Regions from separate parts of the Homo sapiens genome. Here region 2 is linked to region 1. Evidence: fine-mapped expression QTL. Tissue or cell type: whole blood. Region 1 holds a variant in brackets; the other region holds the start of a gene. All regions are shown on one strand. Distances are between the middles of the regions. Region 1 overlaps EPHA4 (EPH receptor A4). Region 2 holds the start of EPHA4 (EPH receptor A4).

The links. PIP is the estimated chance that this variant, and not a neighbour inherited with it, causes the effect.
Region 2: it holds the start of EPHA4, and the variant in region 1 is fine-mapped to the expression of EPHA4 in whole blood (INTERVAL, PIP 0.97).

What each region holds. Positions count from the first base shown.
Region 1 is chr2:221,532,009-221,540,008 of GRCh38, forward strand. All of the region lies in intron 3 of EPHA4 (EPH receptor A4), which reads right to left. It also overlaps the pseudogene TMEM256P2. Among named protein-coding and RNA genes, the nearest start is that of EPHA4, 36 kb to the right of the region's middle. The variant C/T (reference allele first, on the strand shown) is at 4,537.
Region 2 is chr2:221,568,827-221,577,355 of GRCh38, forward strand. It overlaps EPHA4 (EPH receptor A4), which reads right to left and starts at 3,478. Exons shown (of 18, transcript NM_004438.5): 1 at 3,332-3,478. The coding sequence starts at 3,422. RefSeq lists silencers at 3,434-3,853, 4,454-4,733, 4,784-4,943 and an enhancer at 7,647-8,159.

The DNA of each region.
Region 1 (8,000 bases):
GGAGTAGCCAGTGCTCTTTCAAAGGAGAGCTCACTGAGACAAACCAAATATGCTGGGATGTTTGAAAAGGGGAATTTCAAACACCAGGCAATTGTCACACAGATATTTCAATTTATTCTTTTTTTTTTTTTTGAGACAGGGTCTCACTCTGTCGCCCAGGCTGGAGTGCAGTGGCATGATCTTGGCTCACTGCAAGCTCTGCCTCCAGGGTTCAAGCAATTCTCCTGCCTCAGCCTCCAGAGTAGCTGGGATTATAGGCACGTGCTGCCATGCGTGGCTAATTTTTGTATTTTTAGTAGAGACGGGGTTTCACCATAATGGCCAGACTGGTCTAAAACTCCTGAACTCAGGTAATCTGACTGCCTTAGCCTCCCAAACTGCTGGGATGACAGGTGTGAGCCACTGTGCCCAGCCAGATAGTTCAATTTATTCTATCAAAAGATGAGAAAAACTCAGATCAGTTGAGATTTAACATTCTAGTTCTGATTACTGGCCATTTTAATTTGCTAAGCAGGCACATGAATTAACCAAATTCCTAGTCATCACAAGGGCAGATATTAACTTTTAGTTCCTACTTAAGGAACCAACATTTTAGAACCCAGAAGACCAGAGTGAAAGTCAATGCAGTCATGCCAAAATTGTCTGTTATAGATCCACACAGCCTTGGCCGGGCCAGGGGCTGCATTCTGCCACCTGGGCACCTTGTCTGTAGCTGGTGCCTTAGGCTTGGCCTCCTAAGGGGTGCACACCACTCAGTTCCTGGATGCCTACTGGAAGGAGCTGTTTGACACGGCCAACACCCACCACTTCTCACATAGCCTAGCCCTTCTGAGGGGGCTCCATTGCAGAAGCCCTCTGGGCCAGGTGACTGTTTGCCTCTGAAACCACCTTATTCTCAGCAGTTTTACTACCAGGCTCTGAGTGAAGACTGCAATTGGCAGACTTGGCCTTCTGTAGGGGGAGTCGGCCACTCTTGGGCAGACTTGCCTTGGCTCTTTGAACTCACTTGTGTTTAATCACTGGCTTTTGGGGGTGATTTGTTTAGTTGGAACAGGGAGATGATTAAAAGAGAAAGGTAAATAAAGAACAACAACAATGAAAAATTGCCAGTTACATTTCATCTGAGCCATACATATGGCCTTGGCATAAAAATGATGGGAAAGTTACATTGAACAATGTACATGCATTATAATAAACCCAGTATGTATCCTACCATCAGGCAGCCCCATAGCTCCAAAAACTTTTTTGTTGTTGTTGATCAAAATGTGTTACAGCCTACCATAAATACAATCTGTCCTCTTTAATCTGGTTTCTCTATTTCTGTTTGTGGACCTTTGCTAATATTTGAATGAGAAAACAGAGGCAGAGGCAGTAACTGCCCTCACCCCTGCCCCCGTATGTATCAATAAAGGATGCAGATGCGCTATTCACTGAGATGGCTGATGACTCGGAGGGAGGAGGAAGCTGATATGTTCCAAGCAGAATTTCAAAGGTGTGTCCCTGAAAGAAAAATGTTGAAACATGGGTCTACACCCATCTGTGTGACTCCTAAAGTCAATACAGCTTCTAAACACACAGATTACAGCACGCTGAACGAGTTCCAGTCTATGGAGTTTCAAAACATATATAATAATGATGGTACCGGGGGCTGTGCCTCCTCCAGGGAAATTGTTCTGATTTCAAAAGCATCCTGACTGTTAATTTTGTGACTAGTGTCAAAAAAAAAAAAAAAAAAAAAAAAAAAGCCTGTGAGGGTAGGATTCAGATTATAAAGATCAGAGAGAGAATCTCTCCCTTATGAAAATCCAAACAACCTTCTCCAGGGCTATCCCCACTGTCACTTCTGGATACCATTGACAGGCAGACTCTTTGCCACCTTGGGTGCATACTGGAAGAGCCAGCAGCGCCCTACCAGAAGAGTTCTGGGCAAAAGATCCTTGTGAGTTACCTTTTCCCACATCTGCGTGACACTCCATGTGCTTCACACTTAAGGAAATAAAATATACATATAAGAACAGCCCTAGGTAATTATCCACTGATAATTCATATTTAATCTGTTGAATCTAGGTAGGCAGGGACTCAATTTCAAAAATCATGCCAACTACTTCTCTTGAAGGATAACAGATGAGATTTTTAACTGATGTCTTTATAAGGATTCCCAAAAGAATGATTTAAGAATGGCCTGCAAGTAGCATAAAGCATATCTTGTTTACTAAAAAATGAATTTGTGCAAAAACATGCCTGTAATTAGTAAATCATTGGTGTTCCACTTACCCATAAGTGGCTCTGGGAAATTTCTCTGCTCTGTTTCTGCCCTGGATTCTATTTTGATCTGTGGATCTTCTTGGCTAATCCATATCCAGTACTGCCCTAAATAGGTTTTTCTTGTATTGGAATGCGTTCTCATTACCTGCAAGTGCTCCAAGTTCTAACACAGGCACCTAGAAAAGGTCTCACCCCCTCAGATGAAAAACTGCATCTTGCACATGCTGGTAAATGCCTAAATTGGCCTTCTTCCCTGGCCTGGCTACAGTGGCTGTGGTTGTGTGAACTTCCCTACCTTTTAGAAGAAAGAGAATAAGCAACTTCCAGGCTGTGACTATCCCTGGAACCCATGGTCAATTTGTTAGCTCTGTCTAAAAGTCTCAATAGTCAATAACTTTTTGATTGGTTCTTCTTTGTTCTACTAGGGCTGTCACATTTAGCTGAAAATTTAATTTTATGCCCATAATCAAACTCAATAGCCTTTCAGTTCTGTGTAGTTGTACTTCCAGTTGCTTTTCCACCTCAAGAAACAGTTTCTGGGGGAAAAAAGGTAAATAACTCAACTCTTTCCAGTCGACAGAGGTGCTCTTCACTTGAGCATCTACATGATTTAACTTTTTTGTTGACCAGAAAGCATATATTCACAGCATCCAATCTAAGCATATGTGCTATACTGGCTAATTTCTAGCTGTCTGGGATTAACTTCATCGGCAATTCGGGGTGCAGCTTCTGCACGTTCTCCATCGCTATTGGATCCACAGACCTTTTCAATCTTATCCAGTTAAAAAGAAATAAGCAGCACTATTCTCTCTCTTGGATCTTTTACTTAGCAAGGGAACCTGGAAATCACTTTCAACTGGGTGTCATCCAGAGTCAGCCTTAGTGGTGTGGGCAATACACAAGTTTACCTGTGGCTTCCAAAATGCTGTTCCTCAACCTAAATTAATCAGAACCACCTAGGAGCTTGTGAAAAATTCAGATCACAGACTCCAAACTCTAAAGTCTTGAGGATTGATGTTAAAAGTGTACATTTGTAATCAGTACCTCAAATGATTCTAAGGTATAAACTCATTTTTGCAACCACTAGGGTTCATCATCAGACAGAAAAGCTCAGAAAGCACTTACCTTCCACTAAGTTATCTTATGCCATTCTTACAGCTACTAAAAGTAACAACCATATATTGACTTTCTAGAACAGTCCCAAATCCCAAATCTAAATAAACATTATCGTCTTTTGTCCAATGCCCTAAACCACCTATCTACAAAGCAATAAAGCATCAATTATGCCAAATCAAAGGCACTTCTTTTTTTCTGTTTTTTTTCCTCTTCAAACAACGGATTTGTTATTTTCTCCTTTTGTTCAAATAAAGACAATCATCCTTTAAATATAACCTGCAAGTCAACTTTACTGTGAGGCTTTTCTTATCTTCTTCTTCTATGCCTAAAGTGGTAGAACAAAGATTTTTTGGTAAACATTACAAATCTTCATATCAAGGGCACATTCCCTTTGGTTGGATGAAATATCTTTCCCAACTCCAGTAGGGAAAGAATCTTACATGATCAATGGCTCTCAATGGCTGGAAGATAGATGGCAATCAAGAAATATCTGATGAACGAGCCAGGGGTAGAGACCAAACTCTTCCTCTGCTCTTCAAAAATCTTTCAAAACTCAGCTCCACCTACCTACCCAGTCTCTTCAACCCCAGGGTGTGGCAGCTAACTCCTGTTCTTGGCTCAAGGGATATTCATTCCTCTTTTACCAGCTTTATTTAACTACAGTTTACCAAGTTCCTATTCTTGGAAGCCTTTCTAGATAACTGTCAACAAAGATAGTCCTTCTTATCTTTGGCAAAAGAGCACTTTATCTTATCACTCATTTTGACACTTAAGAGCTACCGGGCACCCTGTGGATGACCTTGTCCAGTTAGCTATTTTCTAGATGAGGAAACTAATGTGGCAGCCTAAGGAACTTGTCCATGATCAGATCAGATAATTATTCAGAATAAAAATTAGAAACAGTCTCCCACCCTCTTGTATTGTATTCCTCTAAAGATTATAAGCCTTTTGGAAATGTGGGCTTTAAATGAGAAATGGTTTTTAATCCCTGTACTAGAATGCGAACCTGCTCACTGAAGGCTGCCCTCCAGATTACCGGCCTTACGATGCTCTGCACTAGACCCTGGCATTCTTGAAAGATGTTTCCCCAAATCCTCATTAATTCCCAATAATTAAGCCCTAACCCCCAATGTGATTACATTTGGAGACAGAGGC[C/T]ATAAGGAGGTAATAATAAGTCCATGCTTCATCCATGAAGTCATTCTTCAGAAAATCCCTCTAAACAATGTACTTTGGTCAATTCCCTTGTCTCTCAAAGGGGGTTATTATATACCCAGTTTAGAATGATTGAAACATAATGTGAGAATATGACCAAATCAGGACAACAAAGATGTGCTGAAAAGCAGCCCAGATTTGTAGTTAAGGGTGAAGGCTTGGTCAGTGGCCAGACTTTGCAGGTTGAATCCAGACTCCTCACCTATTAGCTGTGTGACTTTGGGCAAGCTGCTTAGCTTCTCTGGGCTTTAGTTTCCTCATCTATGAAAAGAGGATAATGACAGTCACTATTTCACCAAGTCATGGTGACACAATGAAATACTGAAAATAAAGTGCTTAGCACAAAGCCAAGTTCTCATCAGGTAAATACATAGCGACCTTAACATAAATTATTTTAAATTAATGCCATAAAGGCTAAAACAAAGAGAGAGAGAGAAATCTCTATGCCGTGGGACTTTGAATGCATTTGTGAACTGTTGCATTTAATCCATTCATTCATTCCTTTCAATAACAACTGTGTGTCAGGCTCAGTTTTAGGCTCTGAGAGTCCTGCAAAAAACAAGCAAGGCCCAAAAAACAAAGCCTTCTCTCATGGAAGTAGCATTGTAATTGACAGCTAAATCCAAGGATGCTGGAGATCTTCCACATTCTTCTTCCACTTATGTTCTCAGTGCTCCAAATACTTCTCTTGAAAGTACACTCAAAGCAATTTAAAAGTCACTCCTAAAAATAGTCTGTTACTTTGCAATCACTCATTGTTCTTGAGTAAAACCCAATATTACCCAGTATGGCTGATCTCATTTATCAATAGCCTGGTCAGTGAATTATTTGATTTCCAAAAATTAAATCCACCTTAAGGGACAAAATTGTTCAGAACTAAGCACATTTAAAAAGAAGGCCCCAGGCCTGGCACAGTGGCTCACATCTGTAATGCAAGTACTTTGGGAGGCCAAGGAGGTGAACAGTGCTTGAAGCCAGGAGTTTAGGACTAGCCAGGGCCACAAAATAAGACCACTCATCTCTACAAAAAATTAAAAATTTAGCAAGGTGCAGTGGTGCACACCTGTAGCCCTAGCTACTCAGGAGGCTGAGGCCGGAGGATCATTTGAACCTAAGAGTTGGAGGCTGCAATGAGCTATGATGGTGCCATTGCACTCTAGCCTAGGCAATAGAGTGAGATTCCATCGAAAAGAAGAAGAAGAAAGAAGGAAGAAGAAAGACAAAGATGACGATGACGAAGAAGGAGGAGGAGGAGATTATCAATAAAAAGAAGGTCCCAGACATTTTGAAGAAGACAGTTCCAAAACATTTCCACAAAAGTTGTGGCAGCCTTACAGTTATCCAGACTATCTTTTTCAAGGATTCATTTGCATGAAAGTCTCTGTATTTGTTTGCTAAAAAAAAAGGGGGGGTTATACTTTAGAATTATACAGACTCTTTTGTGTAAGTATACTGCCCAGCAAAACTGACAGAGTGCTGAGTGTGTGGCAAAATGAGTAATTTATTGAATTGAACGAAGAGTCTAAAACGTAGTGGGATGAAACAGATGTATGAGTAGGGTTATAAGTCTTCTGTTATAGGACACAAATGAAAATCTCCTTAGGGATACTGCTCTACCTGTAATTTATTTCTACATTATTCTTGTGTGTAATATTATTTTTGGCATGTTAATGTATTGTCAATGAATTCCAATCTGGTGACATGACAAAAGTTGTATTTCATTTTGGAGTGTAAAAAATGTGAAAATCAATTGAATTATATATCAATGACATGCAATGAGAGTAACTAGTATATTCTGTGTAATGTCACTTTTCTGGAATGACTAGCAGCCTAGAGCTATTAGATTAATTGCTAGAGTTTTATTCTTACTATTATAGTCAGTTGGATTTGCTGAAGTGAGATAAAAACTCAAAGCTCTCTCTTTTTTTCTCCCCCAAAAGAAAGAGAATTTGCCAGAATCTGCATAATTTAGATTATTAACTTATTTTCTTGGCATTTGACTGAACCTGTAAGTTTATGCTGGCAAATAAAATAAGCACTGAAAGTTGAAGTCACTCTTTGATCTAGTAAATAAACCTGCAGAAAATTCAGACTCAATTACTCTTTAAATTTATGACATTTCTAGTATTGTGACAAATACTGCTTTCTCACTGAAAATACATGATGTATTCGGTGAGTATGCTTCAAAAATCAATGGGCTGCTTACAAATAAAACCATATTGACATTTTTACATTTTCCTTTTTACATTTGTTTCTTCGTTCATTTCAATGATCACACGTGGCGTGCAATGACTGAATAGGACTCTATGTACTGTATTGTTTTAGGTGCTATAGTGAATGCAAAGATAAATACAGACTTAGCCTGGGAAGTGCATAGATTCTGGTACAGAACTGCCATATATAGTTGTACAGGTTGTTCACTGAAAAAGAGTATCCAACTGAAGGGGAAAGTGGGGTCTAGAGCCCAGCCTACACTCCTTTTACCAAGTTCAAGGTCCTGACACAGGGCCATGACAATCCAGGAGTAGTAGCAGCAGTAGCAGGAGTAGGAGTAAGCGCTAATATTGATTGCAGGATTTCTGCGTCCCAGCCACGGTTCATGTGTGTTTCACGTATTTACTTATGACGACAAGCTGATGTTGTAGGAACTATTACTACTTGCATTTTATATATGAGAAAACCAAGTACAGAGAAAAATTATTAATTTGCCTGAAGTCAAATAGCTAATAAATGGCAGAACAATTACTCACTGAGTAATACTGTACTCTGTGCCCTAACAAGTCCGATAAGATGGCATTACACAGCATAAGTGACATGAAGGAACGCAATCAAAATGCTGGTGGGAGTTAGGAGAGAGAAGAAAAAAATGATGCTTCTGTAGAACCTTGTGGAATGTGCAAAATTGTGACCAGCAGGAGGGCCTTTGGGGCAGGGTAAATTGTGTAGAAAAAGGCACAGCAGCTAGATTCTTAGAATAGTGAAGGAGCTTTGAAGAAAGAGCTTGGAGACCTATCCTAAAATACAGCGTAAACTCCTCTCACCGACGTTAGAGCTTTGACACAGGGCCCCAGTAACGCGGAGTAGTCACGGGAGTAGTAGTGGTAGAAATAAGAGCTAATATTTAAAAGCCAATGGTGGTTTCAGAGTAGGAGTGATCACAGGATCAACACTCAGATTTAGGAAGACTTGTAATCCCCCAATACAATGAAGGCTGGAAGGGTGTGGAGGAGGGGAGCAGATAGAAGAAGAAAGATGTGTTGGTACACTCATTTATTGGCACTTGGCACTTGTGCATCTTTACAAGCCAGTTTTCTTTTTTCTTTTTGTTTTTTCTGAGATGGAGTCTCACTCTGTTGCCCAGGCTGGAGTGCAATATACCACGATCTCCACTCACTGCAACCTTTGCC
Region 2 (8,529 bases), 37 kb after region 1:
AAAAGCCAATAACACAAAAACCATTTGCCTGAGCGTTTCCATATGTGCTGAGGCTGTGCATATCCAACACTGATCAAAACCTAAACTTGGGCTCACTTATGTAAATAATCATTACTCATTTGATCTTCTCCCCCTCTTTAAATCTGCAGGTTCTTATTTATTCAACTTGCTTAACATTTAAAATTCCATCCTAGGACTCACTTGATTCATTTTTCTAAAAAGGATGAATAGAGAATCTGAAGTACAATTCAAAAAGATAAATACATCTATGTAGAGCAGTTACACTCCAGAGCAAAATCTGCATTCATCTCTGTCTGGTATCTACTAGAATTATTTGTTTTTGCAAGTTTCAGATGACCACATAACTCATCAGGGTGACAGAGCCACAAGTGAATTCTCTCTTCTATCAGAGAGTATCCTATCCAAAGGGTCAGGAAAAGGCTCTCCCTAACATTTTCCCTTCCACAACCAAGTAAATAGTCCCTGAATATGGTATCCGCTGCTTTTTTAAATATCAAAGTTTCAGAAAGAGGGAATGCCAGACGTGCAGAATCAGAATGCAAACGTACCGAAAGTATTCTCTCTTTCTCAAGATGTGTTGGGGGACAATCAGAGACTCGTCTTCCACCCGTAGGAAATCACTGGCTTGAATTTTAGGTATGGAGTGCTGCCTAACGGCTTTAGTGTGCTTGTGCTACACCTGAGTGCGTCAAAGCTTGGGGGGAAGGGAGGACAGCCCACCGAGCTGCGGTACCCCGCTCAGGCTAGAAGAGCGCTAGGTAAGGGGAACATCCAAAGGGACGCAATGAATTCAAAACCTCTCTTTCCCACCGAGATCTGCAGTCCTGGGGGTCGAAAGGCCCACCTCAAAGGAACCACTGGGTTATTAATTTGATCAGCCAGGCTGGCTCTTCAGGCTGGGGGAGGGGTGGGAATGGGAAGCCGCCATCCGTGCTCATGCGCACCCCAACACTCAAGCTTACCCCCAGACCCCTGGATTCTGCCCACTTTCCCTCTCATTTCACCTCAAAGTCAATGGAGTTAAAAATCAGTCTCTTTCCCCTACTTTTCCCGGGGAGTCTGAATTCCTGGGGTCTGTTAATGATTTTAAAATGTAGAGCCTTCCCTGGGTCGCTCCCGCCTGGAGTTCCCGCCCCCTTCCCTCCTCTCCTCTCCCCACCGCCAACCCCCACCGCAACCATTCTCTTCTCTCTGTCCCTAGAGAAAAGCCCGCTACATCCATTTGGATTTATGTAAGGTGGATTAGGGACACAAAGGAAACAATAAGACCCAATTTACAAAAAAAGGAGGGAGTAGAAAGGGAGGGTAAAAGAGAGAAAAGGAAACGTGATGGGAATAGAAAGCAACAAAGTGAATTAATTTTTAAGGGGGAGGTGGGGGAGGGGAGGGGAACAGACCTCCCTCCCTCCCCTTCAACATTAGCCTAGGGCTCTCAGAGCCTTTTTGTCTTGGGCTCCCAAGTTTTTCTCCCCCCCCCCCAAAAAAAGAGGGGGTTTAAAAAAAAGAAAGAAAACAGTCTCTACATCTGGGGCGAGAGAGGTCTCAGGGGACGTCCTAACAAGTGTGTGAAGTGGCCAGGAGAACGCGGGATCCACGATTCCTCTCAGGGGAATGAATAACCCTAGGGACCGAGGGGCGGCGACGGCCGAGATGGCACCAGAACCACCAGAAGCCACGTCGGAAGGAGATGGGAGATCCAGAGGGCGAGAGAGGGCCCCTTTCCTCCCAAGCGATGTCTGTGGGCAGGTGTATAAATCTCTCAGAGCCTCCGTCTGGAGGGCTCCGGGTACCGGCTGCCCAGCCAAGGCTAAGTTGGTTTTTGGCTCCCTCCTTCGGAACAGAGAAAACGATAGATTACACAGGGATGGATGGACGGATGTCTGGAGAGATGGAAAGATGAATGGATGGATGGATGGGTGGATGGATGGATAGATGAATGGGTGGATGGATGGAGGGATGGATGGACGGACGGACGGACAGATATATGGATGGATGCATTATGGATGGATGCATGGACGGACGGACGGATGCACGGAGAGATGGATGGATGCATGGATGGATAGATAGACGGATGGACGGACGGATAGATAGATGGATGCCGGAAAGGAGAAGAATGAGAGACGGATGTGAGACTAGATGCACGCAGGCCAGAGCACCAGCATACGCTGGAACAGAGCACGAGCATACACTCGAACACACGCGCACACACTCAGGACATCTGCGCACAGACATACAATCCTCCGCGTCCGCTTCCACGCAGGCATTCGCGCACCTACATACACGCAGTTGCACGCGCGCGCACACACACAGGCACACACACGCAGACATGCACACACACGCAGACATGCACACACACCACACATGCAGACATGCACACACACGCAGACATGCACACACACACCACACATACACACACACACACACACAGTTCGCCTCTCCCTGGGTTTCTCAGAAACTAAATGATCACCGCCCCCCCGCCCCGCCCCACCTCCCGACACAGACACACAGGCACATACAATCCTCCCAGCACGTCCGAACGGATGCACAGAAAACTGAGCACCCAGACGGGTCCCGTCGACCCCGCACGTTAGCTCTAAACTGTGTGCAATTCTGGGGCGAAAAGCTAAAACTCGACTGCGTTCAACTTGCCGGCGGGTTCCCCAAGTCTGCGGGGCGAAGAGCTCGGGCCCCTCAGGCCCGCAATCGCACCCTCGGGGCGCTGGGCTTGGCGAGGAGAAAGGTGTCTGACTCCGGGTGCTAGAAATCAGGTCACTGGCGCCTGACGAGCGGCGCCACGACCGCTGCGCTGCGGAGCAGGCCCCGCAGCCCGGTCCCGAGAAGCGCAGGGCTCGGGAAACTTTGCAGAAACCAGAGCTCGAAAGGCTTTCGCTAGAATCCGGGAGCACCAAGCCTTCACTGTGCTCCAGGCTGCGTTTTCCCCTCGCCCCGGGCTGGCTCAGGAGAGGACGTGGTTCTTGTAATTTTTTTTTTAAATCCCGGCGTTGTCTCCCGTGCATCCCCTCAGGGCGCCTCGAGCGGGCCTCTCTGGCGGATGCTGATAAACTTTGGCCTTTGGTTACAAACTTGGACAGACCCGCCGCGTGCACGGGTCACCGCCTCGGGGCAGGCTGTCCGGCGGTTCCCCGCTGCCCCTTCGCCGATCCCCTCGCCTCAGCCCCCTTCTCCCGAATCGGGACGCACCATTCACACTGGGCTCCCCCCGCACCACCTGGCCCTGCGCTCCTGAGGACCCCTCACCCGCGATGGCCCCTCGCTGTCCCCGACCACAGAAAGGCCGTCCCGCTCTTACCTTCATTCGCGGGGTATACCCTGGAACCTGTGACAGCGTCGCAAATCCCGAAGAGACACGAAAATAGGGCGAAATAGAAAATCCCAGCCATGGTTCGCCGGTGCCAACGCTGCTCCTGCCGCTTCTATCCCAGTGGAATAAATGCTTAAGTTAGGAGAGCAGCGGGCTGAAGACATTGCCAAGGGGGCGGGCCCGGCCGGTGACGTGAGCCCGCCAGTCCGGGGCCCGCGGCCAATGGCGGCGCAGACAGGGCGGCCGAGCCCCGCCTTCACCGAGCAGGGCCCGCCCCAGGGTTCCGCCCCCTCCGGGCTCCACGGGGCGCGCGGTCTCCCGGGGCTCTAGGGGGCGAGCACGGCCGGTCCCCGCCCCCGCCTGCCGGAGGGAGCCAGCGGGATCCCCCACGTTACCTCGAAGGTCGAGCCCCTGGACGGCGGAGGGACTTTGGAAAAGCTCGGAATTGACCGAGGGGAGCCAGAGAAGAGGTTGGAAACCTTTTCTCCCACCACGGGCGGTTTAAGATGGAGGAAAACGCTCTTTTATTGAAATAAAAGAAGTCTAAGCTGACCTGCGGTTGCTTCTTTAGGAGAGTCGACGTGTCTGCGTCCAGCGCGCCCGGGCTGAGCTGCAGACTCGCGCCTGCCACCGCCACCCTCTGCCACCTTGCCCTGTTTTGTCTTTATGGCGCTTCCCCCTCTGAAATACTCTTTGCGGGGAGTTTTGTGGCTCTATCACTCGCTTCTTCCCTGGCTCCCCAGATGCCTGGAGAGCGGGGACCTACTTGGTCCCCAACGTCCAGTCCGCAGCAGGGCTCCGTCACTGTCTCCAGAGACTGAACGAATGACTTTCTAGCAGTAAGGAAGTCCCCGCTGGCCCCGTCCCCCTGCACACGCCGTGGACCTCGCCCAGGGCCCAGGACGCCCCGAGATGGCCTTGGGCAGGGAACCAGTTGTGGATTTCCCGGGGGCAGGGTTGGGGGCAGTCCCTGGAACCGGGCCTAGCCCGTCTGGGAGCGGTGGGGTAGAAGTGAAAGGCTTAAGTGTGGGTGCGGGGACTTGCAGCCGCACAGACAAGGCAGACCGGGACTGGGAAGCTGCCCGGAGCGGCTGCTGCGACTCTCCGCTCCGACCTAGCCGGGGCAGCCCTCCCTGCCCCGGGAGAAGACGGCGAGCAGGAGGACCCGCAGAGCCCCGCCCGGCTGCTCCGGCCCCGGGGGCACTGGCACCATCGGGCTGTGGTCTTTTCCCGATGCCCGAGCCGTGGACGCGGCCACCTAAGAGCGGTCCGGCGAAGGCAGCGCAGCCGGTGTCCCAGGGACCGGTCCCCAACGCCACTCGGTGCATTTCCCCAGGCGCTGGCAGGGGCACTGATTCCTAGCAATGAGGCCTCCCTTCCCCTTCCCAGGCCGCCCCTCCTCTGACTCCCTCCAGAGCAGGGCCGAGTTTTCCTGGGGAGCCTGGGTCCCGGCGGCCGGGCGGCCGCTGGGAGGTGGAGGAGCCTCTCCAGCCCCGGCCGCAGCTCATCGTGAGCCAACCGCGCCACCTGCCGGCCAGATGCGGGAGTGTGCGGCCCCGGAGGAAGGGCGAGCGGACAAAGACCGCAACCCGCAATCCGCAACCCCGCAGAGAGGTGGTGCGTGCGTTTGGGCGAGCTTTTCAGCCACCGCCAAGTCTCGTGCACTAGGGCTACTCCTACCGTGGGGCTGCGGACAGCGCTCAAGAGGTCCTGGAGTCTGTCGTGACTCTCGCCTGCTGGATTTCAAAAGATGGAATCGGAAAGCGTTTCAAGGAGAAACTCCTAACAAACCTTCCGGGGGTTGCCTGAGTGGCTGCTCTCGGAAAAGCGGATCCTAAATAAAGCGGGAGGGTTATAGGGCGACGTCGAGGAGAGGACAGGTCTCGAGTCACTGCTACAGTTTCAGGTCACTGGGCTCCGCAGCAGATCGTGTTTTCTCCCGTGGCTCGAGAGCTGCGCTGGTTTCTCATGCAAACTCAGAGCCGAGCTAATGACATGAGCAACTTTTACTTTTACACAAGATGAGCACGCGTGCCGAGGCGCTGGGCGGCGGCTGTGTGAGTTGGTGGCCCAGACGAACAGCTTGTGCGAGACTCTGGGCATTTCGGTTTCTAGATACAAGATTTGCTTAAATGTCACAGTCCAAAGAAGTGGATTTCAGTCATTGTAGCTACTGATTGCACACAAGTAAAAAGGGAAAAAATATGTACTCGGGGGATATATGTATGTGTGTGTGCGTGCATAAATTATTTAAAATAACTGCACTAAATCCCTTTAAGAAATGCATTTCTGGGTTCTTTCATGTGTCTTTCTGAGTTTTACAGAAAAAGAAGACGAATATTGGTCCCTGTCATTTGGCACACAGATTCAAAAGAGAAAAGAGCAATCCGAATTCTTTTTGAAACCTTTTTAAACAATAGATGCTGGCTGCCTCTCTGCAGGATCTTGAGTGTTGCATGTATCTATCTGTGTTTGAAACGGGAAACTGACTGCCTGCATTGTTATAAACAGTAAAATTTCTAAAACATGTACCATTTTTTTCCCCAGGATATGCACATTGAATATTAAACAAAGTCTTTCCAGACACAGCTGCCTGAAAGCAAGGCATCATTTGCTAGAGTACATTCACTGACTTTCCCTTTTTTCTTCCTATGTTTTAGTTCAGGACCCAAGGCAGCCCGATAATCAGGAGAACCAAGAAGCAGGAAATGCTAACTTGGAAAAACTGAACTATAACTTCCTCTTTAAATCATTTCTGGGTTGCAGAACAGAAATGAGCTGCTGAAAATTCCTCTGTCCATTGTGACTACCTAGAACAAAGGTGTTCTAACCTAGCAGATATGATTCCTTGAAGAGTAAGGCAAAATTTTAAAAATGATGGTGGACAAAGGCCACCATCAATGCAGAAAACCACCCACATTATGGGAAGACAACCTGGAGTTTTCAAATGTTGGAGACTGTTTACAACACATCAACGGAGTCATAAGGATACAATGGAATATCATACCTTTAAAAAAGTACCTAAAATCACCTAATTTTAAAATAAAATTGCTTTACTCTTGAGTAAGACAAGTCTTACTACAGTAAAAATTTGGGGTTATTTTGAATACACTAAGAAACATGTCAAAACATATCTGCTTACACACTTAATGAAAATAGTAATTGAATAATCTGAAAACAATGATATACTTTTTTTTATACAGTGCCTACCACAAACGTTTGAGCTACGAAGTACCTTGTAAATGCTGAATTGAATTAAGATTGAATTCCAAAGGTGTTTTTAATCCGTAAAAGACGTTTGTAAATAGCACCAAGCATCCCGGGGTTTCCACCTGTATGTGGAGGGCCAATTTCACCAAAGTAAAGAGAAAGGAGCCTTTGACCCGTAGACAAATAATGATAAGGAGGGTGTATGAAAGACTGGAGAGACAGAGAGAATAAGAAGATGAATCCACTCTGCTTTTTCTAGGCATCCTGGTGGATTTTTTGTGAAAAAAATGGAACCTGCCCATAGTGCTCCAATGACTCCCTGAGTTCTCTTTTAGAGAACCAGAACTTTCAATTCAGACAACCCCAATTTGATACTTTAGCTGGGCTTTTTCTAGCTGTGTGTCTTTAAGTTCCTTGACCTCTCTGAGATATGGTTTTCTCATCTACAAATTGTAGATAGTTAACATTATATGGTTCTTCTAAATACTGAATGAATGTTATAGAGCTTCTGGTATAGTACCTGGCGTGTGTTAGCCAGCTGTTATTACTCATTTTTATTTTTATTTTTATTTTATGAGACAGGGTCTCACTCAGGTCACCCAGGCTGGATTGCAGTGGTGTGATCATGGCTCACCACAGCCTCACCCTCCCCAGGCTCACGTGATACTCTCACCTCAGCCTCCTGGATACCTAGAACTACAGATGTGTGCCACCACACCTGGCTAATTTTTTGTATTTTTAGTAAAGATGGGGTTTCACCATGTTGCCCAGGCTGGTCTCAAAATCCTGGGCTCAAGCAATCCTCCTGCCTCATCCTCCTAAAATGCTGGGATTATAGTCATGAGCCACCATGCCTGGCTATTGTTTCTGTAAAATAATATTTAATTAATAAGCATTCACATTTTGAAATGAGAAATCATTTGTTCAGCTTGAATTGTTCCTTCCAGAAGGAAACCAAGCACTGTGATTTACCTTTCGTGCTCCATGAGAAAATAAGATGCTTTATTTTATTAACTCCTAGAGTAGGGAAGGGAAATAAATTCTAAATTCTTCTCTTCTTTTATTGTTGATTTATGACAGCTGACATCCAACTTTTATATTCCTAGGTAATTCCACTGGATTTGGACCTAGAGGCTATGCTTGTCTTCAAATAGAATAGTGTAAAAAATACGTGAAAGAAGGTGTGAGGAATCCAGAGTCCCACAACCAAGTGGTAATGAATAACCAAAGCTCTACCTAATGAAATTCCCACCGTTGTTAGAAAACGCTTCTACCACAAGCTACTGCATCTTAAATATACAAATTTGACACAACAATTGGTGGGCTTCCGGAAGCCCCCAGGAAACCTAACTGCAGAGTTCATCCTTTGATGTCAAGGCTTTGATGCTGTTTGTTATGCAAATAAGAAGCAGGACACTTATGAGCCCTTTACACCTGAGTGGGAAAAAAAATGGCTGCAGAGCTCAGGTCTTCATGCATCAAGAGGATGAGAGAGCAAGACAAAGCAAGAGGCCTTTTTTTGTTTGTTTGTTTCATTTTTTTAATAAGTTGTTGGGGTATAGGTGGTATTTAGCTACATGAGTAAGTTCTTCAGTGGAGATTTGTGAGATCGTGGTGCCCCCATCACCCGAGCAGTATACATTGCACCGTATTTGTTGTCTTTTATCCTTTGCCCCCTCCCATCTTCCCCCCAAGTCCCCAAAGTCCACTGTATTATTCTTATGCCTTTGCATCCTCATAGCTTAGTTCCCACATATCAGTGAGAACTTAGGATGTTTGGTGTTCCATTCCTGAGTTACTTCACTTAGAATAATAATCTCTTTTGCATCACTGAGGTGAGGAGGGGCAGACAGGAAGGTTGCAGTTCTCAAGGGAGCAAGGCTTTTCTAAAACTTCATTTGATGCCGTCCGTGAATTTTACTCGGTTCTAACAAACATTTCTTCAGTGTCTACAATGTACCAAATCCCACATGAGG